5 separate regions of the Homo sapiens genome follow, and all the other regions are linked to region 1. Evidence: fine-mapped expression QTL. A gene starts in region 1. Each other region holds a variant in brackets. All regions are shown on one strand. Distances are from middle to middle.

The links. PIP is the estimated chance that this variant, and not a neighbour inherited with it, causes the effect. A credible set is the group of variants that fine-mapping cannot tell apart.
Region 2: its variant is the best candidate, but not a certain one, in a credible set for the expression of SLC47A1 in whole blood (TOPMed, PIP 0.71).
Region 3: its variant is the best candidate, but not a certain one, in a credible set for the expression of SLC47A1 in whole blood (TOPMed, PIP 0.55).
Region 4: its variant is the best candidate, but not a certain one, in a credible set for the expression of SLC47A1 in whole blood (TOPMed, PIP 0.58).
Region 5: its variant is the best candidate, but not a certain one, in a credible set for the expression of SLC47A1 in whole blood (INTERVAL, PIP 0.68).

The regions. Positions count from the first base shown.
Region 1 is chr17:19,531,241-19,536,240 of GRCh38, reverse strand. SLC47A1 (solute carrier family 47 member 1) reads right to left here and starts at 2,387. Exons shown (of 17, transcript NM_018242.3): 1 at 2,167-2,387. The coding sequence starts at 2,301.
Region 2 is chr17:19,567,929-19,572,928 of GRCh38, reverse strand. SLC47A1 (solute carrier family 47 member 1) reads right to left here. Exons shown (of 17, transcript NM_018242.3): 15 at 1,357-1,451; 16 at 68-149. It overlaps LOC105371578 (a long non-coding RNA gene), which reads left to right and starts at 1,451. Exons shown (of 3, transcript XR_934310.4): 1 at 1,451-2,084. The variant A/C (reference allele first, on the strand shown) is at 2,259.
Region 3 is chr17:19,460,806-19,465,805 of GRCh38, reverse strand. LOC105371574 (a long non-coding RNA gene) reads left to right here and starts at 4,835. Exons shown (of 3, transcript NR_188341.1): 1 at 4,835-5,000. RefSeq lists enhancers at 2,353-2,898, 4,539-5,000. The variant A/C (reference allele first, on the strand shown) is at 1,994.
Region 4 is chr17:19,474,435-19,479,434 of GRCh38, reverse strand. No RefSeq gene overlaps it. Among named protein-coding and RNA genes, the nearest start is that of TRW-CCA2-1, 31 kb to the left of the region's middle. RefSeq lists an enhancer at 3,492-4,329. The variant T/C (reference allele first, on the strand shown) is at 2,987.
Region 5 is chr17:19,669,861-19,674,860 of GRCh38, reverse strand. It overlaps ALDH3A2 (aldehyde dehydrogenase 3 family member A2), which reads right to left. Exons shown (of 10, transcript NM_000382.3): 9 at 2,905-3,140. Among named protein-coding and RNA genes, the nearest start is that of ALDH3A2, 24 kb to the right of the region's middle. The variant T/C (reference allele first, on the strand shown) is at 2,453.

The DNA.
Region 1 (5,000 bases):
AGCAATAACAGGCTGGGCAAGGTGGCTTATGCTTATAATCCCAGCTCTTGGGAGGCCGAGGCAGGAGGATTGCTTTAGCCCAGGAATTCAAGCAATGGGCAACACAGGGAGACCCTATCTCTAACCCAAAATACAAAAATTAGCCAGGCATGGTGGTGTGTGCCTGTAATCTCCGCTACTCCAGAAGTTGAGGCTGCAGTGAGCTGTGATCACACCACTGCACTCCAGCCTGGCCGACAGATCAAGACCCTGTCTCAAAAAATAATAATAATAATAAAACAATAATAGCCTTAGAAAGCCCCTTCTCACAGCAGCTCTGTGAGGGAGTGTTGAACCAAGACATGATTATTATCTCCATTTTACAAATGAATATGCAGAGACCAGAAGAGGTTAGGAGGCTGTTTCAATCTGCACAGCTGCTTCCTGACTTACTTTCGGAGGTCAAAGCAGGGCACGCAGCCCCAGGTCTTGAGATTCCAAATCATGAGGTGTTTTTTTGCCCAGGCTGGAGTGCAATGGCGCGATCTGGGCTCACTGCAACCTCCGCCTCCCGGGTTCAAGCGGTTCTCCTGCCTCAGCCTCCCAAGTAGCTGGAATTACAGGCGCCTGCCACCATGCCCAGCTAATTTTTATTTTTTATTTTTTGTATTTTTAGTATAGACGGGGTTTCACCAGGTTGGCCAGGATGGTCTCAATCTCTTGACCTCGTGATCCGCCTGCCTTGGCCTCCCAAAGTGCTGGGATTACAGACGTGAGCCACCACGCCCAGCCATGAGGTGTTTTTGTTTTGTTTTGTTTTGTTTTTTGAGACCAAGTCTTACTCTGTTGTTCAGGCTGGAGTGCAGTGGCACCATCCTGGCTCACTGTAACCTCCACTTCCCAGGTTCAAGCGATTCTCGTGCCTCAGCCTCTGGAGTAGCTGGCACTACAGGCGCCCGCCACCACGTCTGGCTAATTTTTGTATTTTTAGTAGAGACGGAGTTTCACCATATTGGCCAGGCTGGTCTCGAACTCCTGACCTCAAGTGATCCATCTGCCTCAGCCTCCCAAAGTGCTGGGATTACAGGCGTGAACCACCGCGCCCAGCCCCAAATCATGAGTTCTTTCTGGTCTGTGAGAAAGCATGGCTGATGGATCTTATTCCATGGCTTTGACCTCGGCATTACCCTTGCTGTCCTGCACACCACAGCGGGTGCCACAATATCCCACAAACTACCGAGCCCCCACTCCAGAGGCACAGCGGCCCCCCTCAGCCCGCGCAGGTGCAGAATGTGGGCCTCAAAGTCAAAAGCTTATTCACGCCTTAAGTGCATACCAGTTGCTTCTTGTGCCGCGTCCTACCCTCTCGGTTTGAAAACCACCCAAGCTGGCAGGAGAACGTGGATAGGATTGTGTTTTTGTGGTTTTTAAAACCACATTATTTTTAGGAGACAAGGCAGAAACAGCCCTAACCTAATGATTAAAAAGAAAAGAATCCCACAGATAAGAACACCTCGACCCCACAAAGAACCACATTAAAACCCCTTTTTTCTTTCACATACATAATTACTGGCGGGGAGGGGGTGGTACAGGATGCCTCTGGTTTCCTCGGTAGAGGTTGACTGAATTCTGAAGAAATCATTTCGCAGCTCTGAGTCCACGACAGACCACGCACCCCCTCCTCCGTGCCTCGGGATTATTTAGATCGCAGAGCTCCCGAACTTTTGACCGCTACTTTTCAAAGAAACAAGTTCCCTTGTGTTTTGAAGTTCAGGCAACTTGCGTTTTATTGGCCGGAATCAGCTCCCAGAGAAGGCACCCCCGGATGCAAATGCAGCCTGGACCTGGTAGAGCCCCGTTAGGGGCAAAGGTCCCAGCTCTCCGGTGTCTCCTGGCGCAGGAGGCTGGAGCCGCCGGCCTCTCCGAGCCAACATGCGCCCGGGCGCGTACCAGCCGTTCCCGCAGTGCCCCGCGGGGCCCCCAGTCGGGTGGTGCGGAGCGGAAAGCGGCCGGGACGCAGGCAGAGGAGCTGGGGTGCCCGCCCGGCTCCTGGCACGATGCTCCCCGGAGCCCGCCGGCGGACAGCTCGCTCGGTCCCCAAAGCCCGCCAAAGTCACCCGCGGAGGCAGAAATCACCAGGTCCCCAGCCCGCCGGTACCGGCCTGCCACTGAGGCCACCTTACTCACCGCGGGGCCAGCCAGGACCAAGAGCGCCCGCAGCTCTTCTCGGAAGGCGGACAGCCGCAAGCAGCGCGACCCACGGACCTCAAGGGTGGCCTCCGGGCCTCCGCGCACTGGCGCGGGCTCCTCAGGAGCTTCCATGTGACTCGCGCGCTGCGGCCGGGTAGCGCGGAGGCCGGCAGTGGGTACCGCGGAGGCCGGCAGTGAGTACCGCGCAGGCCGGCAGTGGGTACCGCGCAGTGCAGCCTGCTCTGCAGTCCCCGCCCCGGCCGCCCGCCCAGAGCCCGCCCCGCGCCTGGCGCCCGGGGGCCCGACTGAGCGCGCAGCCAGGCAGCCTGCGACCTTGGGCGCGCCCCTTGCACCTCTCTCTGCACCACTGCGGACGCCTGCGGGTCTTGCAAAGACCAAGGAACTCCTGCACTTGGAAGGCAAAGTTTGAAAAAGCTCTGTAAACTAACGGAACGCGCTCCGGGGGCTGGGTCCTCCACGTCTCGGACGCCAGGACTCACCCCGGCTCTCCACCTCCGCTGGGGGTTTCAGGTTCTGAATGACCTGGCGTGGAAGGACCCAGAGGCCTCGAGCCGTGACTCGGTTAGCACCCCGCGGGGTGTGTGGGGTTGGGCGCATTTGCTGTGCAGATTGAGTTGGGTACACCCTTTGATGCTGGTTAGGGTGTTGCATACTCCTCTCCTCTCATCAGTTGTTCCATTAGAGAACTTAGAATCTACCAGGATAGAGCAACATGCTCCCATTTGCCAAGTAGCACAGTTTGTGCCAGCTGGTCGTGTTGGAAGTTTATCCATCAAGCCTGCTGTGGGAGTACGAGAGGCTGCGGCCCAGAAGGGCAGGAGCAGCGCGCTTTCCTCCCAGAGCCTCAGCTTCCTCATCTGCAAACGTGAAAGAACACTCGTCGCCAGCTGTGAAGACTGGGGTTGCCTGGGCGGAGGACCGGAGTCAGTGCCACCTGCCCTCAGCCTGGCACCAGCCGTTACCTAATAAGTGTCAGTTACCAGGACAAGATTGATTTCTCTAATAGTCAAAATTCCTTCCGTTGTAATGATCCAATGTAAGTAGAGAAAATGGAAAACAAATTTTTTGGCTCACATAATCAGGAAGTTTGGATTCAGGGATTTGAAAACAAGGTCATTAGGCCAGGCGCGGTGGCTCACGCCTGTAATCCCAGCACTTTGGGAGGCCTAGGCGGGCGGATCACAAGGTCAAGAGATCGAGACCATCCTGGCCAACATGGTGAAACACCGTCTGTACCGAAAATTAGCTGTGCATGGTGGCGCGCGCCATAATCCCAGCTACTAGGGAGGCTGAGGCAGGAGAATTGCTTGAACCCGGGAGGCAGAGGTTGCAGTGAGCCGAGATCTCGCCACTGCACTCCAGCCTGGTGGCAGAGGGAGACTCCACTCAAAAAAAAAAAAAAAACAAAACCAGATCATTCTTGTTGTCCCTCTTCCCATCTCTGTCCCTCTCCTCCCTTCTCCTCGCCCCTTGGGATTCTTTCCGTAGTTTCTCTTCCTCCTCTGCCGGCAGCCTTTCTCTTCCTGTGCAAGTGACAGTGGTGGCCTCTGATACCCTCGTTCCTATCTTTCCCGTCTGTTAAACCAGAAAGTAAGGCCCTCCCCTCCTCTCTTCTGGTTCCAAACTAACAAACAAAAAACTGGGAGAAAATCTGGTTGGCCCTGCTTAGGTTTCTTGCCCACCTCTGGAACAATCGCCCTGGGTGGGAAAATAGGGTCTGATGTTTGGCTGGCCCTGGACCATGCACCCAGCTTTGAACCTACAGGGTTAGGGTTAGGTGCCCTGTGACTGGTCTCGTCCCACAAGGACTGTACATATGGAGTAGCGCAGTTTCCCAAAAGAACTGAGAGTGTCAACAGACAAATACCCGAGGATATTCACTAGATCTCTGATCACTGCTGTTTTTTGATAATTTTCTGGAAGTCCTGACTGATGTAATAAGACAGGAAATGGAAATGTAATGTATAATGTTAGGAAAGAAAAGGCAAAGGGATTACTCACAGTAGAAATTGACAGACCGGGCCAGGCACAGTGGCTCATGCCTATAATCCCAACACTTTGGAAGGCCGAGGTGGGAGGATCACTGGAACCCAGGAGTTTTGAGACCAGCCTGGGCAACACAGTGAGACCCCATCTCTTAAAAAAAATCCACACAACCCAAAGAAATAAAATATGAACAAAAGCTAATAGAATTGATAAAGGGGTTTAATAAAGTTGCTACATAGAAGTTCTTCAACAAGTCATATCAGTCCTTTATATTGGTAATAACATATATGAAAATACTAAAAGAAATCTTTCACAATAGCAACAAAAAACAAAAGGTCCTCGTGATACAGAGCATAACTCCTCACTCCTTAAAGGTGGATTGTACACAGTGACTTCCTTCCAAAAAGTAGCACAGGAAAATTAATTTTCAATTAATATATTAGGTTTTAGTCCACTACTGTGTATTCCATTATTTTAAAATTTAATAGAATGATTCTAAAAGCAATTGATAGTGTAAACAGGAAAAGATATAACAAAAACTCTGAAAAAGAAAAGTAAGGAGGAAAGAAGTAGCTCTATTGGCTGGTAAATAGCTTTTAAAACAACGTGTGGTTGGCTGAGCACATTGTACAGGTGAGTAGCCCACACCTGTAGCCCCAGCACTTTGGGAGGCTGAGGTGACAGGATCGACTGAGCCCCGCAGTTTGAGGCTGCAGTGAGCTATGATTGCACTACAGCACTCCAGCCTGGGCAGCAGAGTGAGACCCTATCTCAATAAAAAACAAAAAACAAAACAATTAAAAGAACAAAGAACCCTGTTACTT
Region 2 (5,000 bases), 37 kb before region 1:
CTCACTAACAGCCCCTCCAGTCCTACCTAGACAGGCCTGTCCAAGGGCTGAGGGAGTCATATCTTACCTGGGTGAAGCGGATCCTGAGGGAGAGCAGAATTCCCACTCCGAGGCACGTTGTTTACTTTCAAATTGGCGTGTACCTGAGCCTGGAAAATGAAACTCAGTCCATCAGGCTTCACAATAGTGTTAATATGGTATTTTACTTGACCACCTAGTTTAGGAAGAGCCAAGCCATTTTCCTTAATTGGCATGTATAGCTGAAGTTCCTCTCATTCACAGGTCATCTTTCATAAAGATTGAAATGGGGCCAGGCTCAGTGCTCACACCTGTAATCCCAGCACTTTGGGGGGCTGAGGAGAGAGGATTGCTTGAGCCCAGGAATTCAAGGCCAGCCTGCGCAACACAGCAAGATCCCATCTCAATTAAAAAATTAAAAACAAAAAAATAACAACAACAACAAAAAAAACAGCCAGGCATGGTGGCGCATGTCTGTATTCCCAACTACCTGGGAGGCTGAGACAGGAGGATCACTTGAGCCCAGGAGGTTGAGACTCCAGCGAGATGTGATCCTGCCACTATAGTCCAGCCTGGGTGACAGAGTGAGAGCCTGTCTCTTAAGAAAAAGAAAACAGAAAAGGCTGAAATGGGGTCCATGAAAGGGAAGGTGGGATGGGAACAGTACAGGGTGAGGGAGACAGGGACAAGAGAGGGACCAAGATCATTTAGAACTCTCCCTTTTTACTTTATCTCTTTCTTTTTAAAACATTTTTATTTGTAGAGACAGGGTCTCGCTCCATCACTCAGGCTGGAGTGCAGTGATCACAGATGACTGCAGCCTCGAACTCTAGGGCTCAAGCGATCCTCCTGCCTCAGCCTCCTGAATAGCTGGGACTACAGGCATAAGCCACTGTACCTCGACTCATCTCATTTTTCTACCACCTATTTCTAGACCTCACACTGACCCTAGAAAGTTGAAGGGAAGGATGCACACAAGTATCTTAACAAAACATTTGGAGACCATAAAAACAACATCAGGATGACTTTGATGCATCCCACATTTCTCTCCAGTTCTAATTCTTGTCCTGAAATTGGATTTTCCTGCACAAGGGTGACAGCCTGGCATGGGAGACAAGGAAGAAAGGAGTCCCCTGTTTTTCTGGGAATAGATAAAGCCAGGATCATCTGGCCCTTCACATCTGAACTGTCTAGTTAAAACAACAAGAACAATAGTATTCATGAGATAAGAATAAAGAAAATGAGAAAAGAACTTTCCAAAAGAAAAAAGGGAGAGCCAGATCAGATCCTGTTTTTCTAGGAGAGGAACCTTTACCGGGACAGAATGAACATAGTTACCTGCTGACAGGCTTTTTTCCAATTTAGCTGAATAATAAAGCCTAGAAAACACACAGCTTGAAAGACTGTACAGATGATGATCCCTGACCACAGACCTAGAAATAGAAATATTTAATAGAGGTTAATTCCATAGAAAACCAGCTGCCCCTGGGGAGTATGTTTTGCCTATATCACTTCTGTCAGCCATACTGAATATCTGCTTTCATGGCTGAGGTGGAGCCCACAGCGGGCCAGAGACCTCTATCCTGCTCCTCCTCAGGCTTCCAGAAGGTTCCAGAAGGTTCTGGAAAGCCCAGTACTCCTTGAGGCCACCCCCAAAAGGGCCATCTCTTTTGGTTCAGGATTTCGGAACAAATATTCAGAGGATATTTTTGGCCTTACTGATTATAATGCTTGAATATTAAGAAAAATGCCAGTTATAAGGAAATTAAAATTTCCCAGGACCAACTACTTCTGCCCTGGTTTCCTCAAAAAAGGGGACTAACATTAAAAAAAAAAAAAGCAGAAATCACTAGCCATATAAACTACTAATGTTCTCTTCCTCAGAGTTCCTGCCAGACCTTGGACCTTAACTTGCTTCTGACACAGACTTTGCTAGAAGCTTCCAGAGCAGGGCTGAGCACCTACAGATGACTGGAGAACACCAAAGGCAGGCCAGGTGGGAATGGATGGCGGGAAAAGCCCTGTGAATCTCAAGGCACCACACAGGGCACAGAGGGAGACCCCAGGTGAGGAGGGTTTTTTGGTCAACAGTAAACTAATGGCAGAACCAAAAGCTCCAACAATAACCAAGAGACAAAGTCCTGACCGTAATAAAAACAGACCTCTGCCTCACAACCTGCAGCACCCTGCCCAAGAAACCCCACCCCATCTACAATAAACCCAGGAAGCCAGCCTTCCCT[A/C]AATCAGACTTGCAGGAAGCAAGATCGCTGCCTTTGGTAACAATCCAGGAAGCTAACCAGTAACTTCTGTAACGATTGGCCCCAGATGGCCAGGACTTGATTAGCAACTGACAGCTTGCCTAATTTTGGTCTGCACTTCCAACTTAGGACCAACCAGAGAAAGTAAAATACATCCCCCTAACCAATCACATGGGAGGCCCATTTCTAGTCAGCCACCTCCAGCATCCCCCAGATCAACAATCTCCACTCAGGACACACCTGCAGCCTCCCCTTTTATCCACTGTGACGCTTTCCCACTCCTTTGCCTGCCTTTGAGTTTCTGCCCAAATGCAAGTGGTGGCAGCCAACACCCTTGCTGAGAATACACAGACTTTGCTTGTCTTGCTTGGTTGGTCCTGGTTTATTTCCACAGCTGTCCAGATCTATGTAAGGGTTAAGGTGGCTAGTCTGGGTTCCTGGTTTATGGATTCGGTACAGGTTTTACAGCTCTGTTTCTTGGTACCAATCACATTTTTCAGGTATGATCAGCCTGCCCTTTTGTTTGTTTGTTTGCTTTTTAGAGTCAGGGTCTTGCTCTGTTGCCCAGGCTGGAGAGCAGTGGCATGACCACAGCTCACTACAGCCTCCAACTCCTAGAGTCAAGTGATCCTCCTGCCTTGGCTTCCAAAGCACTAGGATTATAGGTATGAGTCACTACGCCCAGCCTAGCCTGCTCTTAGAATAGTATAGTTGGTGCCACCTGCTAGTCCTATAAAAAATTAGTAAAAGCAAGCTACTGGCTTCCTCTTTCAAATCCAGTGTTCTCAGTACATAGAAACTACAAGCTCACCTGAACCACCTTAAACAGGAAATAACCAGCTAACTCCAGCTATAATTTGAAAGTTATGAATTAGATTTCCAATAATTTTAGCATACATCATTTAAAAGATTTCTATTTGACCCAACCTATGAGCCCAAAGTGGGATGATTATTAGATCTCATGGGCAAGGCCCAGGAATTTACATATTTAAAATGTCTCCCAGGGATTCTGAGGGTCATTATGATTTCCTGAGGTTGCTTCTGAGAACCTGCAGAATTCTGATGCTCTCCTAGACACCTTGTATAGGTATACTGCATACCATACCAGGAGACACAATACTCAAAACCAATTCGTACCACAATTTCTTCTAATAGGTGGGTGGGGGGGATTGACTATAGGCTTCTCATAGAGCCCTCACATCCCCAGGGCCCCCACCATTTCTTTTCAGTGATTCTCAACTTCCTCTTCTACTTTGCACAATTAGTTACGCTTTTTTTTTTTAAGGTAGAGTCTCACTCTGTCGCCCAGGCTGGAGTGCAGTGGTGCCATCTTGCTCACTGCAGCCTCCGCCTCCCGGGTTCAAGCAATTCTTGTGCCTCAGCCTCCCAAGTAGCTGGAACTACAGGCGCACACCACCACACCTGGCTAATTTTTGTATTTTTAGTAGAGACGGGGTTTCGCCAAGTTGCCCAGGTTGGTCTCAAACTCTTAACCTCAAGTGAACCACCCACCTCAGCCTCCCAAAGTGCTGGAATTACAGGCATGAGCCACTGTGCCTGGCCTAGATATATTCTGTTAAATGAATAGGTGAGCCAAGGACGGCACTTGGGATACAGATGGATTTATATTTCAAAGCAGGTTCCTCATGCCTGTAATCCCAGATACTTGGGAGGCCAAGGTGGGAGGATCACTTGAGTCAAGGAGTTTGAGACCAGCCTGGGCAACATAGCAAGACCCCATCTGTAAAAAATGAAACAGGAGAATAAAGTAGACTCCTCTTCTAAAAAAGTTGAACTCATAGAAGTAGAGAGTAGAATGATGGTTAGCAGGGACTGGTGGCAAGGAGGGGAGGGCATGGGAATGGGGAGTTGTTAAGGTACAAATTTCTGATAGACAGGAAGAATAAGTTTTGAGATCAATTGCACACCAGGGTGACTGTAGTCAATGTACTGCACATTTTGAATTAACTAAGTAAATTTCAAATGTCTCACCATAAAAAATAAGTGGTGATAAGTATGTTAATTAGCTTAATTTAATCATTCCACATTTTATACATATATCAAAACACCACACTGTACCCCATAAATGTATACAACTATAATTTGTCAATTTAAAGTTTAAAAGATATAATATAGAGAATTTAAATTATTTCCTTAATATTTTATACTGATTGCACGTTGCAATAATTTTAGACATATTGTGTTACATAAAATACATTACTTTAAAAATAAAAATAAATTAGATTTCTATAATATTTGCATTAGCTAGGCAATTGGCAAATCCAAACTATGAATCGCACCAGAAACTCAGCTAAATAATTTTCTGCACTATCATGCAAGCCCAATGAACTTTGCATTGGCAATACTATTCTTTGAACAACTCCTGTATTTTTAATTAAAATATTATTGAACTTGAGAAAAATGTGCCACATAAAGGAACATACTGAACTGGAAGTTCCCTGTAGGTATCAGTTGACTTCTCACCACCTCTGAGCCTGCCAAGTACAGATGAATCAAAACAAGCCACGCTTTAAGTCAGTCACTACTCACCCCAAAGATAAATGTCCAGGTTTTCATATCATCATTTATTAACTGCCAATATGTTCCAAATTATTATTTTAGAAATCAAAGCTGGGCAGTCATTTATTTCCGTACTTTTTAAAAAGATTAGCTCTGGTAATTTCAGATGCTGTGGATTAAGTTTTTTCTTCCAAATGTGGGAAG
Region 3 (5,000 bases), 70 kb after region 1:
CTGCCGTGTTGACTCTGATTAGCTCCAGTCCCAGGAATGCCTCCTGATTCCTACACTTAATCAGGAACACCATGGAACACTGGTGTTCCATGAAAGGGCCTGGACTTAATTTCCTGTCCTTAGTGTGAGAACGTGTCAACCCTGATGTTATCACACAAATTCTAGGCTATGATGCACAGCATTCCTGCCTGCTCTGGATTGCTGCCATTGTCTCTGTAGAGCAATGCACACTTTCTCCATGGTGTACAAGCCCTGGGTCTGGGAGTGTGGACACCTGTCTTGCTGTCACCCAAGACCATGCTTCTGCCTTAAATTCCCCAAATAAACCACCCTTTGCTGACACACTGGATGTGTGTGCCTTGTTCTTTGGTTTCTCAGCTCCTTCTGCGTTTGGGGCTGCTTTGCGTATGTGGCCCTTTCACAGAGCACCAGTGTTCACACAGCACATGGGAAATATGATCTCATTGCTCTCCTTGCCACCCCCCCCCCACTTTTTTTTTGAGATGAAGTCTCGCTCTGTCACCCAGGCTGGAGTGCAGTGGCGTGATCTCAGCTCACTGAAACCTCCGCCTCCCAGGTTCAAGCAATCCTGCCTCAGCCTCCCAATAGCTGGGATTAGAGAGATGCACCACCACCCCCAGCTAATTTTTGTATTTTAGTAGAAATGGGGTTTTGCCATGTTGGCCAGGCTGGTCTTGAACTCCTGACCTCAGGTGATCCACCCGCCTTGGCCTCCCAAAGTGCTGGGATTACAGGCATGAGCCACTGCAACCAGCCTCATTGCCCCTTTCTGACCTGCTCATAGCCTAAGCCCAGGCTAAAAGTGAAACAGGAAAACCAGTCCCCATTCTTCACCCCACAGAAGCCTGGGAGCTAATCCTGATGTTGTAAATGGGATATGGGGAACCTGAGGTGATGGGGAGAGAGTGTTGAACAAGCCTGACTCTGTCCAAGCCAGGCACAGGACCAAAGGACCTGAGTCGCTGACGTCAGAGAGTGCTTTACTGGGCTTCTCAGTCTTGTGTGACCCTGGGCAGGTTTTTCGTCTGGTCCTTTAGGCTCCGAATAAATGATGGCAAAAACTTGGTCTCCAAATTCTATGATGACTTCACCAGAAGATTCGTATAAGGATGTTCATAGCAGCTTCATTCATAGTATCCCCAAACTGGAAATATCCCAGGATTCCACCAATAGCAGAATGAAAAGCAATCTGTGGTCAGGCACACAATGGAACACTGCTCAGCAATAAAAGCACCGCTGGCACACACAGCCTCACGCTGCACAAAAAGAACATAGTTCCCAACGGAGAACATATTGTATGAGCCCATGAATAGGAGGTTCCAGAATAGGCAAAACTTACCCAGAGTGGGAGAAAAGCAGAACAGTGGTGGTCTTTGTGGGGACAGAAGCCTTACCCAGGCAGGAGCAGAGTCGCAGAGCACAGGAGCCATGGATATGGTCCCAGTGAGGATGCACTGCTGGCTGCATGTGCCTGGCCAGGGTGTTCATATCACTGGGGGGGACAGGCTTTGTGCTGGCTGCTCCCCGATGAGTAAATTAACATGTGGACTCACTTAGGTGGAGAAAATGTACTCAGTGAGGCTGTGAGTGCCAAGCGTGTCTTTCCCCTCTCCTGCAAATCCAAACTTACTCATTAGGGCTCTGAGTTTTTGTTCCTAGGCTTTATTTACATTTTCTTCTCCGGCTTGTGCCACGTGCAGTGAACACGTGTCACATTGCAGTTTTCTACAGGGTTCCTCCTTGGAGGTTTTCTTTTTTCTTTTTTTTTTGAGATGGAGTTTGGCTCTTGTGGCCCAGGCTGGAGTGCAATGGCATGATCTCGGCTCACCACAACCTCCACCTCCCGGGTTCAAGTGATTCTCCTGCCTCAACCTCCCGAGTAGCAGGGATTACAGGCATGCGCCACCACGCTTGGTTAATTTTTGTATTTTTAGTAGAGACAGGTTTTCACCATGTTGACCAGGCTGGTCTC[A/C]AACTCCCAACCTCAGGTGATCCACCTGCCTCAGCCTCCCAAAGTGCTGGGATTACAGGCATGAGCCACCACACCCAGCGGAGGTTTCCTCTTCCTACTCAGGTGTTCAGTACACAATGCTCTGTCCCACACCCTGGCTTCTATTCCCCTGTTGCCCAGGTGTCCTGAGGCTCTCTGGATGTGTTAGGTCATTCTTGCATTTCTATAAAGGAATACCTGAGGCTGGGCAATTTATTGGATTGGTGCAAACATAATTGCAGTTTTTGCTACTTTTTCTTAATGCAAAAGCTGCAAATTACTTTTGCACCAACCTAATATAAAGAAAAGAGGTTTAAGTGGCTCACGGTTCTGCAGGCTGTACAGGAAGCAGGGCACCAGCATTTGCTCAGCTTCTGGGGAGGTGTCAGAGCTTTTACTTGTGGTGGAAGGGGAAGTGAGAGCAGCATGTCACATGGGGAAAGCAGAAGCAGAGAAAGCATTGCACCAGTGAAGCTGCACACTTAAACAACCAGACCTCAGCAGAACTCACTATCACGAGGACAGCACCAAGCCACGAAGAATCTGCTCCCACGATCCAAGCACCTCCCTCCAAGCCCCACCTCCAACATTGGGGATTACATCTCAACGTGAGGTTTGGGCAGGGACAAACATCCAAACTCTATCATTCTGCCCCTGGCCCCTCCAAATCTTATATTCTTCTCACATTGCAAAATACAATCATGCCTTCCCAATAGTCTCCCAAAGTCTTTTTTTTTTTTAGACAGTGCCTCACTCTGTTGCCCAGGCCGGAGTGCAGTGGCACTATCTTGGCTCACTGCAACCTCTGCCTCCTGGGTTCAAGTGATTCTCATGCCTCAGCAATCCGAGTAGCTGGGATTACAGGCATGCGCCACCGTGTCTGGCTAATTTTTGTATTTTTAGTAGATGCGGGGTATCACCATGTTGGTCAGGCTGGTCTGACCAACTGGCTTCAAGTGATCCACCTGTCTTGGCCTCCCGAAGTGCTGGGATTACAGGCATGAGCCACCATGCCTGGCCCCAATAGTCTCCCAAAGTCTTAACTCATTCCAGCATTAACACAAAGTCCCATGTCCAGGTCCAGAGTTTCATCTGAGACTCATTTCCTTCCTCCATCTATAAGCCTGTAAAATCAAAACAAGTTATTTACTTCTAAGATACAATGGGGAAGTGGGCATTGGGTAAACATTCCTGTTCCAAAAGGGAGAAATTGGCCAAAAGGAAAGGGCTACAGGCTCCAATTAAGTCAGAAACTCAGTAGGGCAGTCATTAAATCTTAAAGCTCCAGGCTGGGCATGGTGGATCATGCCTGTAATCCTAGCACTTTGAGAGGCCGAGGCAGGTGGATCACTTGAGCTTGAGAGTTTGAGACCAGCCTGGACAGCATAGCTAAACTTCATCTCTACATATATATACACACACACATATATATAATATTATATATATAATATATCATATAATATTAATATTATATATTATATATAAACATACACACACATATATTATACATATTATATATAATGTATAAACATACACATATATATTATATATATAAACATACATATATATATATAATCTGGGTATGGTGGTGTGCACCTGTGGTCCCAGCTACTCAGAAGGCTGAGGTGGGAGGATCGTTCGAGCCTGGGAGGTGGAGGTTGCAGTAAGCCAAGATCACACCATTGCACTCCAGCCTGGACAACAGAACAAGACCCTGTCTCAAAATAACAAAAAACAAAAACAAAACAAAAAAAACTTAAACTCTAAAAGAATCTCCTTTGACTCCATGTCCCACATCCAGGGACACTGGCATGAGGTCTGGACTCCCAAGGCTTTGGGCAGCTCCGCCCCTGTGGCTTTGCAAGGTTCAGCTCCCGTCGCTCCTGTCACAGTTTTCTGGGCACAAGGGTACAAGCTGCCAGTGGCTCTACCATTCCAGGGCCTGGAGGACATTAGCCCCCCTTCCCAGAGCTCCACTAAACAGTGCACCAGTGGGGATTTTGTGTGTGGGGCCTCCAACCCCACATTTCCACTATTCCACCTCTTCGGAGGTTTTCTCTTTCTACTCAGGTGTTTGCCACATGGTGCTCTGTCCCACACACTAGTTTCTATTCGCTTGTTGGCCAAAGGTCCTGAGGCTTTCTGGTTGTGTTAGGCCATTCTTGCATTGCTATAAAGGAATACCTGAGGCTGGGCAATACTGTGCTAGTAGAGGTTCTCTCTGAGGGCTCCAGCCCTGCTGTAGGTTTCTGCTTGGGCACCCAGGCTTTCTCATACATCCTCTGAAATCTAGGGGGAAGCTGCCAAGCCTCATTCACTGTTGTACTCTGCCAGCCTACAAGCTTAACACCACATGGAAGCCACCAAGGCTTATGGCTTGCACCCTCTGTGGCTGTGGCCCAAGCTGTCCCTAGGGCCCTTTGAGCCATGGCTGGAGCTGGAGCCTCCCTAAGTGGCACAGGGCACACTTCAGGCTGGGCCCATAAAACCATTCTTTCTTTCTAGGCCTCTGCACCTGTGATGGGAGGAGCTTCCTTAAAGGTCTGTGAAATGCCTTTGAGGCCCTTTTCCCATTGTCTTGGCTGTTAATTAGCACTTGGCTCCCTTTCAGTTATGCAAATTTCTCTAGCAAATGATTATTCTGCAGCCTGCTTTAATTCTTCCCCTGATAGTGCTTTTACTTTTTCTGCCACATGCTCAAGCTGCAAAATTTCCAAACTTTTATGCTCTGCTTCCCTTTTGAATATAAATTTTAAATATAAGTCACAATGGGCCATCTGTGACATCATGCTGGGGCTGCTTGCCCACTTGGCTCCCTCTAGGGAAGTACTCCCAGCTGCCCACAGTCATCCTTCTCCATCCCACTGACCTTCCACCCGTGACCAATCAGGAGATGTTTCCAGTTTATTGGTGAATTTATTAGGGCTCAGAGAGGATGACCTATCCAAGGTCCCACTGCCAACTGAATGTAGGACAAGTCTCTGAACCC
Region 4 (5,000 bases), 57 kb after region 1:
TGTGGTGGGACATACCTGTTTTCCCAGCTACATGGGAGGCTGAGGCAGGAGAATTGCTTGGGCCCCAAAGGTGGGGGTTGCAGTGACCTGAGATCATACCTCTGTACTCCAGCCTGGGTGACAGAGTGAGACTCCATCTCAAAAAAAAAAAAAAAAAAGAAGACATACATACAGTAGCCAGTAGGTATATGAAAGGGCACTCAACACCACCAATCATTAGGGAAATACAAATCAAACCCACAATTAGGTATCACCTCACACCTGTTAAAATGGCTATTATGAAAAAGACAAAAGAACATGTTAGTGAGGATGTGGATCTAATGTACAGCAATGTGAATGTAGTTAACAATAGTATATTAAAGACTTGAAATGTGCTAAGTTGGTAGATACAACAACAAAAAATACTCTAGAAAAAATCAAACACAAGAAACCGCAGTTAATGAACTAATTGAAGGAGGAGAGAGATGTAGGGCATATGGAAAACAAATAGCAAAATGTCAGAAGTTATTCTTTATAGGCCAGGCGCAGTGGTTCACGCCTGTAATCCGAGCACTTTGGAGGCTGAGGCAGGTGGATCACTTGAGGTCAGGAGTTCGAGACCACCCTGGCCAATATGACGAAACCCCATCTCCACAAAAATACAAAAATTAGCTGGGAGTGGTGGCATGTGCCTGTAATCCCAGCTACTCAAGAGGCTGAGGCATAAGAATCGCTTGAAACTGGGAGGCGGAGGTTGCAGTGAGCCAAGATTGCACCACTGCACTCCAGCCTGGGCAACAGAGCAAGATCCTGTCCCCCGAAACACCTGCCCCAGAAAAAGGGCTGAGGCAGGAAGATTGCTTGAGCCCAGGAGTTCACAGTTACAGTGAGCTATGGTCACACACTTCACTCTAGCCTGGGTGGCAGACCAAGACCCTGTCTCAAAAAAACCAAAACCAACCAAACAAAACAAACTAACTTTACCACAGACAAATTGGAACATTACATACAGATGGTCCCCGACTAAAATGATTTGGATAAAATTTTCAAGTTTATGATGGTGGGAAAGCAGGACACATTCAGTAGAAACCATACTTCATACTTTTGATTTTTAAAAAAATTAAACAAAAATATTTAGTGGCTGCCAGGACCCCCAGTGCAGGGCACGGTGGGCCTGGCCAGAGCCGCGGATTAGAGGCCCTGTTTTTCACTTTCAGTACAATATTCAATAAATTACATGAGATATTCAACACTTTATTATAAAATAGGCTTTGTGTTAGATGATTTTGTCCAACTCTAGGCTAATGTAAGTGTTCTGAGCTTGTTTAAGATAGGCTAGGCTAAACTGTGATGTTTAGTAGGTTCAGTATATTAAATGCATTTTCAACGTACCAAATTTTCAACTTACAATAAGCTTATCAGGATGTAATCCCATTGTTTAAGTTGAGGAGCATCTGTATTGACAAAATTCATCCAGAAGAATAACAATTATAAATAATATATGTACCTAGCAACAGAGTCCCAAAATACATGAATTGAAGGGATAAATATAAAGCTGTTAATAATAGTTGGAGACTTCAGTACCCCACATTTAATTAATTAATTAATTTATTTATTTATTGAGACGGAGTTTCGTTCTCGTTGCCCAGGCTGGAGAGCAATGGTGAGATCTCGGCTCACTGCAACCTCCACCTCCTGGGTTCAAGAGATTCTCCTGCCTCAGCCTCCAGAGTAGGTGGGATTACAGGTATGCGCCACCATACCCGGCTAATTTTGTATTTTTAGTAGAGACGGGGTTTCTCCACGTTAACCAGGCTGGTCTTGAACACCTGACCTCAGGTGATCTGCCCACCTCAGCCTCCCAAGGTGTTGGGATTACAGGCGTGAGCCACTGTGCCCGGCTCCACCCACTTTTAATAGATAGAACAATTAGAAGAGCAAGAAGAAAATAGAAGGCTTGAGCATCATTATGAATCAACTAATAGACACATTTAGAACACTCCACCCAACAACAGTAGAACACATATTCTTCTCCATTCTAGAATTAGAAATGAAGGACTAGAATGAATGGGGACGTTACTACCAACAAAAAGGATTATGAAGGAATACTACGAACACTTAAGTGCTAACAAATTAGGTAAGTTAGATGAAATGGGCAAATTCTTAGAGACACACAAATTACCAAAACTGACACAAGAAACAGAAAATATGAATAAACTTATAACAAGAGATTGAATTAGTAAACTACCCACAAAGGAAAGCCTAGTCCCAGAGGGCTTTACAGGAAAATTCTCCTGAACATTTAAAGAAGTAATATAAATTCTTTACAAACTCTTCCAAAAGACAGAAGAAGAGGGAACATTTCCTAGCTCATTCTATGAGGCCAGTATTACCCTGCTACCCAAATCAAAGATATCACAAGAAAAGCAAACTACAGATCAATGTCTAATCTAAATATAGAGGAAAAAAATCCTCAACAAAATCCAGAGCAAACCACATTCAGCAAAATGTAAAAAGAGCTATATGACATGCCTAAGTGGGATTTGTCCAGGGAATATCAGGCTGGTTTAAAATCCCAAAATCAATTAATGTAAGACACCATATCAATAGAATCTAAAAAATCCAATAGACATGGAAAAAGCATTTGACAAAATCCAACACCCTTTCACAATAAAGTCTAGGAAAGGGAAGTCAGCATCCAACAGTCTTGGAATAGCGTGGGATTTTTATTTTTATTTTTATTTTTATTTATTTTTTTATTGATCATTCTTGGGTGTTTCTCGCAGAGGGGGATTTGGCAGGGTCATAGGACAATAGTGGAGGGAAGGTCAGCAGATAAACAAGTGAACAAAGGTCTCTGGTTTTCCTAGGCAGAGGACCCTGCGGCCTTCCGCAGTGTTTGTGTCCCTGGGTACTTGAGATTAGGGAATGGTGATGACTCTTAACGAGCATGCTGCCTTCAAGCATCTGTTTAACAAAGCACATCTTGCACCACCCTTAATCCATT[T/C]AACCCTGAGTGGACACAGCACATGTTTCAGAGAGCACAGGGTTGGGGGTAAGGTCATAGATCAACAGGATCCCAAGGCAGAAGAATTTTTCTTAGTACAGAACAAAAAAAAAGTCTCCCATGTCTTCTACTTTCTACACAGACACAGCAACCATCCGATTTCTCAATCTTTTCCCCGCCTTTCCCCCCTTTCTATTCCACCAAACCGCCATTGTCATCATGGCCCGTTCTCAATGAGCTGTTGGGTACACCTCCCAGACGGGGTGGTGGCCGGGCAGAGGGGCTCCTCACTTCCCAGTAGGGGCGGCCGGGCAGAGGCGCCCCTCACCTCCCGGACGGGGCGGCTGGCCGGGCCGGGGGCTGACCCCCCCACCTCCCTCCCGGACGGGGCAGCTGGCCGGGCGGGGGGCTGACCCCCACCTCCCTCCCGGACGGGGTGGCTGCCGGGCGGAGACGCTCCTCACATCCCAGACGGGGCGGCGGGGCAGAGGCGCTCCCCACATCTCAGACGATGGGTGGCCGGGCAGAGACGCTCCTCACTTCCTAGATGGGATGGCGGCCGGGAAGAGACGCTCCTCACTTTCCAGACTGGGCAGCCAGGCAGAGGTGCTCCTCACATCCCAGATGATGGGCGGCTGGGCAGAGACGCTCCTCACTTCCCAGACGGGGTGGCGGCTGGGCAGAGGCTGCAATCTCGGCACTTTGGGGGGCCAAGGCAGGCGGCTGGGAGGTGGAGGTTGTAGGGAGCCGAGATCACGCCACTGCACTCCAGCCTGGGCAACATTGAGCACTGAGTTAACGAGACTCCGTCTGCAATCCCGGCACCTCGGGAGGCCGAGGCTGGCGGATCACTCGCGGTTAGGAGCTGGAGACCAGCCCGGCCAACACAGCGAAACCCCGTCTCCACCAAAAAAATACGAAAACCAGTCAGGCGTGGCGGCGCGCGCCTGCAATCGCAGGCACTAGGCAGGCTGAGGAAGGAGAATCAGGCAGGGAGGTTTGCAGTGAGCCGAGATGGCAGCAGCACAGTCCAGCTTCGGCTCGGCATCAGAGGGAGACCGTGGAAAGAGAGGGAGAGGGACACCGTGGGGAGAGGGAGACCGTGGGGAGAGGGAGAGGGAGGGGGGAGGGGGAGGGAGAGGGAGCGTGGGATTTTTCTAAAGGGCACCTTAAGAAAAGCCTACAGCTAACATTGCACTTAATAGTGAAAGACAGATGTTTTACCCCAGTCCTAAGATCAAGAACTTAGAAGACCATCACTTCTTTTAAACCTTGTAGTAGAGATTTTAAACAAAAACAAGAAATAAAAGTCATCTAGATTGGAAAGGAAGAAGTAAAACTATCCCTATTCCAGATGAATCCACAGGATATGCAGAAAATCCTAAGGAATCCACTAAAACGTTTTAATTCCACAAGTTTGCAGGATAAAAGATTGCTATGCAAAAATCCATTGCTTTTTTTTTTTTTTTTTTTTTTTTTTTTTCAGACAGATTCTCACTCTGTCGCCAGGCTGGAGTGCAGTGGCGTGATCTCAGCTCACTGCAACCTCCGCCTCCCAGGTTCAAGCAATTCTCCTGCCTCAGCCTCCCGAGTAGCTGGGACTACAGGCGAGCGCCACCACGCCCAGCTAATCTTTGTACTTTTAGTAGAGATGGGGTTTCACCATGTTGGCCAGAATGGTCTTGATCTCTTGACCTCATGATCCGCCCACCTCTGCCTCCCAAAGTGCTGGGATTACAGGCATCAGCTGCTGCGCCCAGCCAAATCCATTGTATTTCTACATACTAGCAATGGGCTGGGTGTGGTGGCTCACACCTATAATCCCAGCACTTTGGGAGGCCAAGGAGGAGTGCTTGAACTCAGCAGTTCACGACCAGCCTGGGCAACATAGCAAGATCCCATCTCTTAAAAAAATGTTAAAAAAAAGAAATTAAAAATAAAAAAATATATACTAGCAATGAATAATTCAAAAATAAAATTAAGAAAATAATTACATTTTAAATATCCTCAAAAT
Region 5 (5,000 bases), 140 kb before region 1:
ATTTCAGAAAAATGTAATTACAATAAATAGACTATTCAGGTAAATATACAGTACAGATTCAAAGTCATTTATTTTAAATAAAAGGTAATTTGATAAAAAGAGGATTAAAAGCTCAGAAAGGAGCAGAAAAGCAGCAAAGTGGAAAAGAAAACCAAATCTCTACCTAGTTCCAGATTGAATCCAAAGAAATATTAACAACTATTAGTAATGAGAATTGAGCGGAAGGGTTGAAAGTGGCCTGGGGAATCACTGACACCTACTCCCTCACCCTGTAGATGAGCAAGCTGAGGCCCAAGAAAGAGCTCAGAAAAGGCCTTGCCCAAGTTCATTGAGCCAGGAATCAAACCACATTTTTTTGTTTCTGCTAAAGGTTTTATATATTGCTGCTTCTTTTATATATTGCTGCTTCTCTAGACCCTCACAGAGAAACATGCCTGCCAAACCCTTTGGGAACTCGAACCTGCCTGGCACACTGCACTGCACCTGAGGGAGGCTTCTTGGGGGTTTGGTAAGATTGGAGAATGCAGACTCAGCCTGGGCCTCCGTATTTTCCATGAGGCTAAAATATTCTATCCTACCAAGATGCATTATCAAACTGAGGAACCGAGGTCTTGGGAAAAGAACAAAAGAGACAGATATTGACCAGAGACCCAAGTAAGCTTCCGACCACACCTCCAGCCTCAGGAAGGCAAAGAAAGTAGCCCCTAAATTGTATACTACACCTTGATTTCACGACATTTGCTGCCATGAATTCCAAAGTCAAACCTTTTTTTAAAAATGAAAACAAATCAAAACTACTTAGTGATTTAAAAAACATATTCTTAAATTATGACATAAAGAGTTCAGTGCCTAGATGGTGACAAGTCTGAATTAGTCAGCTGGCACCTCCCCCAGGAGAGCTGAGTAGAAGGGGAAGAGAAATGAGGCTCACACTCAGCTGCCCTTTTCCAAGAAATGATGTATGCTTCACCTGGACGCAGCTAAGCCATTGCCTCTGCACACTTCTCTTAGATTCCTAGCAAGTCACTTCACCCTTTTAAAATTGTGGATAAGTGGAGTTTTAACACCCTGATACTCTGGGCCCAGGTCCAAAATGTCTAGAGATAAGTAAGTTAAACATTCTTTTTTCTTTCTTTTTTTTTGGAGACGGAGTCTTGCTCTGTCACCCAGGGTGGAGTGCAGTGGCACAATCTTGGCTCACTGCAACCTCTGCCTCCCGGGTTAAAGCAATTCTCCTGCCTCAGCCTCCCTAGTAGCTGGGACTACAGTCACGTACCACCACACCCAGCTAACGTTTGTATTTTTAGTAGAGATGGGGTTTCACCATGTTGGCCAGGCTGTTCTCGAACTCCGGAACTCAGGCAATCCACCTGCCTTGGCCTCCCAAAGTGCTAGGATTACAGGCGTGAGCCACTGCGCCCGGCCCATTCTTTTTTCAATAACCCTTAAGCCTCCAACTGTAGCAAAAAAAAAACAAAAATAAAAACAAAAACAAAAACAAAAACAAAAACAAACCAAAAAACCCTTGAAAACATACCCCAACTTGGCCCACCTTACATATAGAAAGAAAACAAAAAGTTCCTACCTCACTCTTAACAGACAGGGCTGGGTTTTGAAATCTGGTGTTCATCTCTGCTTACTGGACCAACGCAGTCTGTGAACTACCAGAAAAATCAACAGGGCCTTTCTCCTCAGCACAGCTTGGTATTTCTGAGAAAACCCAAATGATTTCAAATGCAACTGGTATCTCCAATTCCACTAAGGCTGGGATACTGTAAGATGAGCCAAACCCCTTTCAAATTTTTGTTGTTGTTGTTGTTGAGATGGAGTCTCGCTCTATTGCCCAGGCTGGAGTGCAGTGGCATGATCTTGGCTCACTGCAACCTCCACCTCCCGGGTTCAAGTGATTCTCCTCCCTCAGCCTCCCGAGTAGCTGGGACTACAGGTGCGTGCCACCATGCCTGGCTAATTTTTGTATTTTTAGTAGAGACAGGGTTTCACCATATTGGTCAGGCTGGTCTTGAACTCCTGACCTCGTGATTCCCCTGCCTCAGCCTCCCGAAGTGCTAGGATTACAGGTGTGAGCCACTGCGCCGGCCCCCTTTCAAATTTTAAACAAAACATAAACACAACTATTACCATTGCCTTTTCCAAGCCCATTCTTCACTGATATGGTCAATATTTTCAATGTTATATCCTCAGTTGAACGGCTGAGGGCACCACAGACACAATTGCCTTCCTCATTCCATCTTAACTTTAATTACGGATTTCCTCTTTCATCTCAAAATACGCAAACTGCTTTGAGAAGGCAGCTATCATGAGGGCCTCTTTGCAAGCCCATCCCTATAATGACTAATCACCAAAGATAAACTTTATCAGGTAGTGAACTTTGGAGGAAAAAAACTCAAGCCTAATAAAATATCCCTCACCAAAGCTGTTGTACCAGAGTTCT[T/C]GCCTTCACCTCTGTGGTAAGCTGATTTCATGCACATTCAAGAACAAAGCTGTAAGTGACAAGGAAAGTCCAATACCAAAAGGATCAAAGGGCTAACCCTTTGATCAGACAGCTCAGAATTCTGCAATCAAGTTCTACGCTGTTTTAATCTCTTAGACCAGAGATCAGCAAACTTTTCTGTAATAATTTAGGCTCTGAGGGCCATTCAGCCTCTGTTGCAACTACTCAGCTCTGTCACTGTCCCATGAAAGCAGCTGTGGATGATTAAACAAGTGGGTGTGGCTGTGTTCCAATAACTTCAGTGACAAAAACGGGTAGCTGGCCAGCAGGCTGTGGTTCACTGACCCTGTCTTAGACTCTACAAGTTAATGTAGAGTCCTGCTAGAATATGCATCTGGCAGCCATCAGGCCAGGACCAGACTGAATGGCACTCATGGGTTATAGGGACTCACCTTGACAAGCACAGCGGCTACAATACCCAGGAAAGTGAGCAACAGGAGACCGAGTTTTTCTTTGTTGAACCGTTTCAAGAGAAAAAATTTTCCCCAATCCACCTTTGACTGGCTGTTGGGAGGATATCTGAGTTTGTTAGCACCTTCTCTCTTTAAACTTTTTAATAAACAGGGACGCTGATGAGAAAAAGTATCAAAACTATGTTTTCCGTGATAAGCTCCCATCCCACTGGAACCTGAAATAAAGGGAACAGACAAAACAAGCTTCACTGTAGATGATGCAAGCTACTTCTGTCTAACAACGACCGGGAAAGCTCACATGCACTCCCTGCTGCCTGGGAACCCCACTGAACATCTCTGCCAGCTGAAGTATCTCTTTTCAGGAAGTCCTTACCAACTTCCCTGGAAAAGTCAATTTCCCTGTCAAACAGGATGCTTTCCATGAGCAAGACAAGGACTTGCACCTCTTCTAGAGCTGTGGCTCTCATTTATGCCAGGGACTGTGCTAAGAGTTAAATCATTCTCTTAAGATAATTCTCACCACAATCCCACTTGGTGAATTATCAGCAGCCTCATTTCCAGAGAGGGAAAGGGAGCTTACAGGGTCAGTTAACCTGCCCAGGGTCACACGGCTGCTAAGTGGCAAAGCCAGAACCCGAACCTGGATCAGACTCTAAATGCTATATGTGCTCTCTTCCCACCATCCCATGTGGCTTCATTCATCCATGGCCCCACACACCCACTTGCTTTCTCAAAGCCTGTGGAAAGTAAGACAGGGCAACAAGGTTGCACAGCTGGATGATAATAAGCAAGTGTAAATCTCTGCCCTCCACAAAGCCATGCTCTGTGACAGTTTCATTTCTCTAATTCATTGTGTGTACAACAGACTGACAGGCACAAAGCGGAGCAGTGTGAGCTGGGCAGAGGGAATGGCATGTGTGATATAAGACACAGGTGACCAGAGGCCAGGGAGCAGTTTACCAAGGCCAGGCTGCAGGAAGGAATCATTCATGAAGCAGGCCTGGTGTGAGAAGAGACCCAAGGACAAGACCATGAGAAACCCTAACTCTGAGGGAGGGTAAAGAATGAGGGAGGGGGCCGGGTGCGGTGGCTCACGCCTGTAATCCCAGCACTTTGGGAGGCCAAGGCGGGTGGATCACAAGGTCAAGAGATCAAGACCATCCTGGCCAACATCGTTAAATCCCGTCTCTACTAAAAATACAAAAATTAGTTGGACGTGGTGGCGCACGCCTGTAGTCCCAGCTACCTGGGAGGCTGAGGTAGGAGAATTGCTTGAACCTGGGAGGCGGAGGTTGCAGTGAGCTGAGATCGCGCCACTGCACTCCAGCCTGGGCGACAGAGCGAGACTCCGTCTCAAAAAAAAAAAAAAAAAGAATAAGGGAGGGGCGAGCCAAAGACATAACCAAGGTAGTAAGAAACTGGGAAAAATTTGGGAGGCTGATGCAGGAGGATTGCTTGAGCCCAGGAGTTCAAAGTTGCAGTGAGCTATGATTGTGCCACACTGCATTCCAGCCTGGTCAACAGAGTGAGACCCTGTCTCAAAAAATAAATAAAAAGCAAAAAACTGACATGAAGGAAATTACAAAGTTTTGTTGAAAGATATAAAAGGGCTATATAAATGAAGAGATGATATAACATATTCCCATTAAGACTCCACATTTTAAAGATATAAATTCTTCCCAAAATAATTTAAGTTTAAATCAATTTTAATAAAAATCCTAGGGGATTTCGGAAGGTTTTGTTTGTTTGTTTTAAGTAGGAGGAGGTAGTGATTCCAAAGATCATCTGGAAAAATAAATTTAGATAAGAACAAGCAAGAAAACATCGAAAAACAGTAATAATGAGGAGCTTTTACTTTTAGGTATTGAAATAGTACTGTGTCCTAAAGAGCAAACTACTGGATTGGTTGAATATGTGGGTTTTGGAGCCAGACAACTTTGGCTCATTTCTTGGCTTTACTACTTATTAGTTGTCTGTCTCTAAAATGCGTGCATTTGACCGGGCACGGTGGCTCACACCTGTAATCCCAGCACGTTGGGAGGCTGAGGTGGGAGGATTGCTTGAGCCCAGGAATT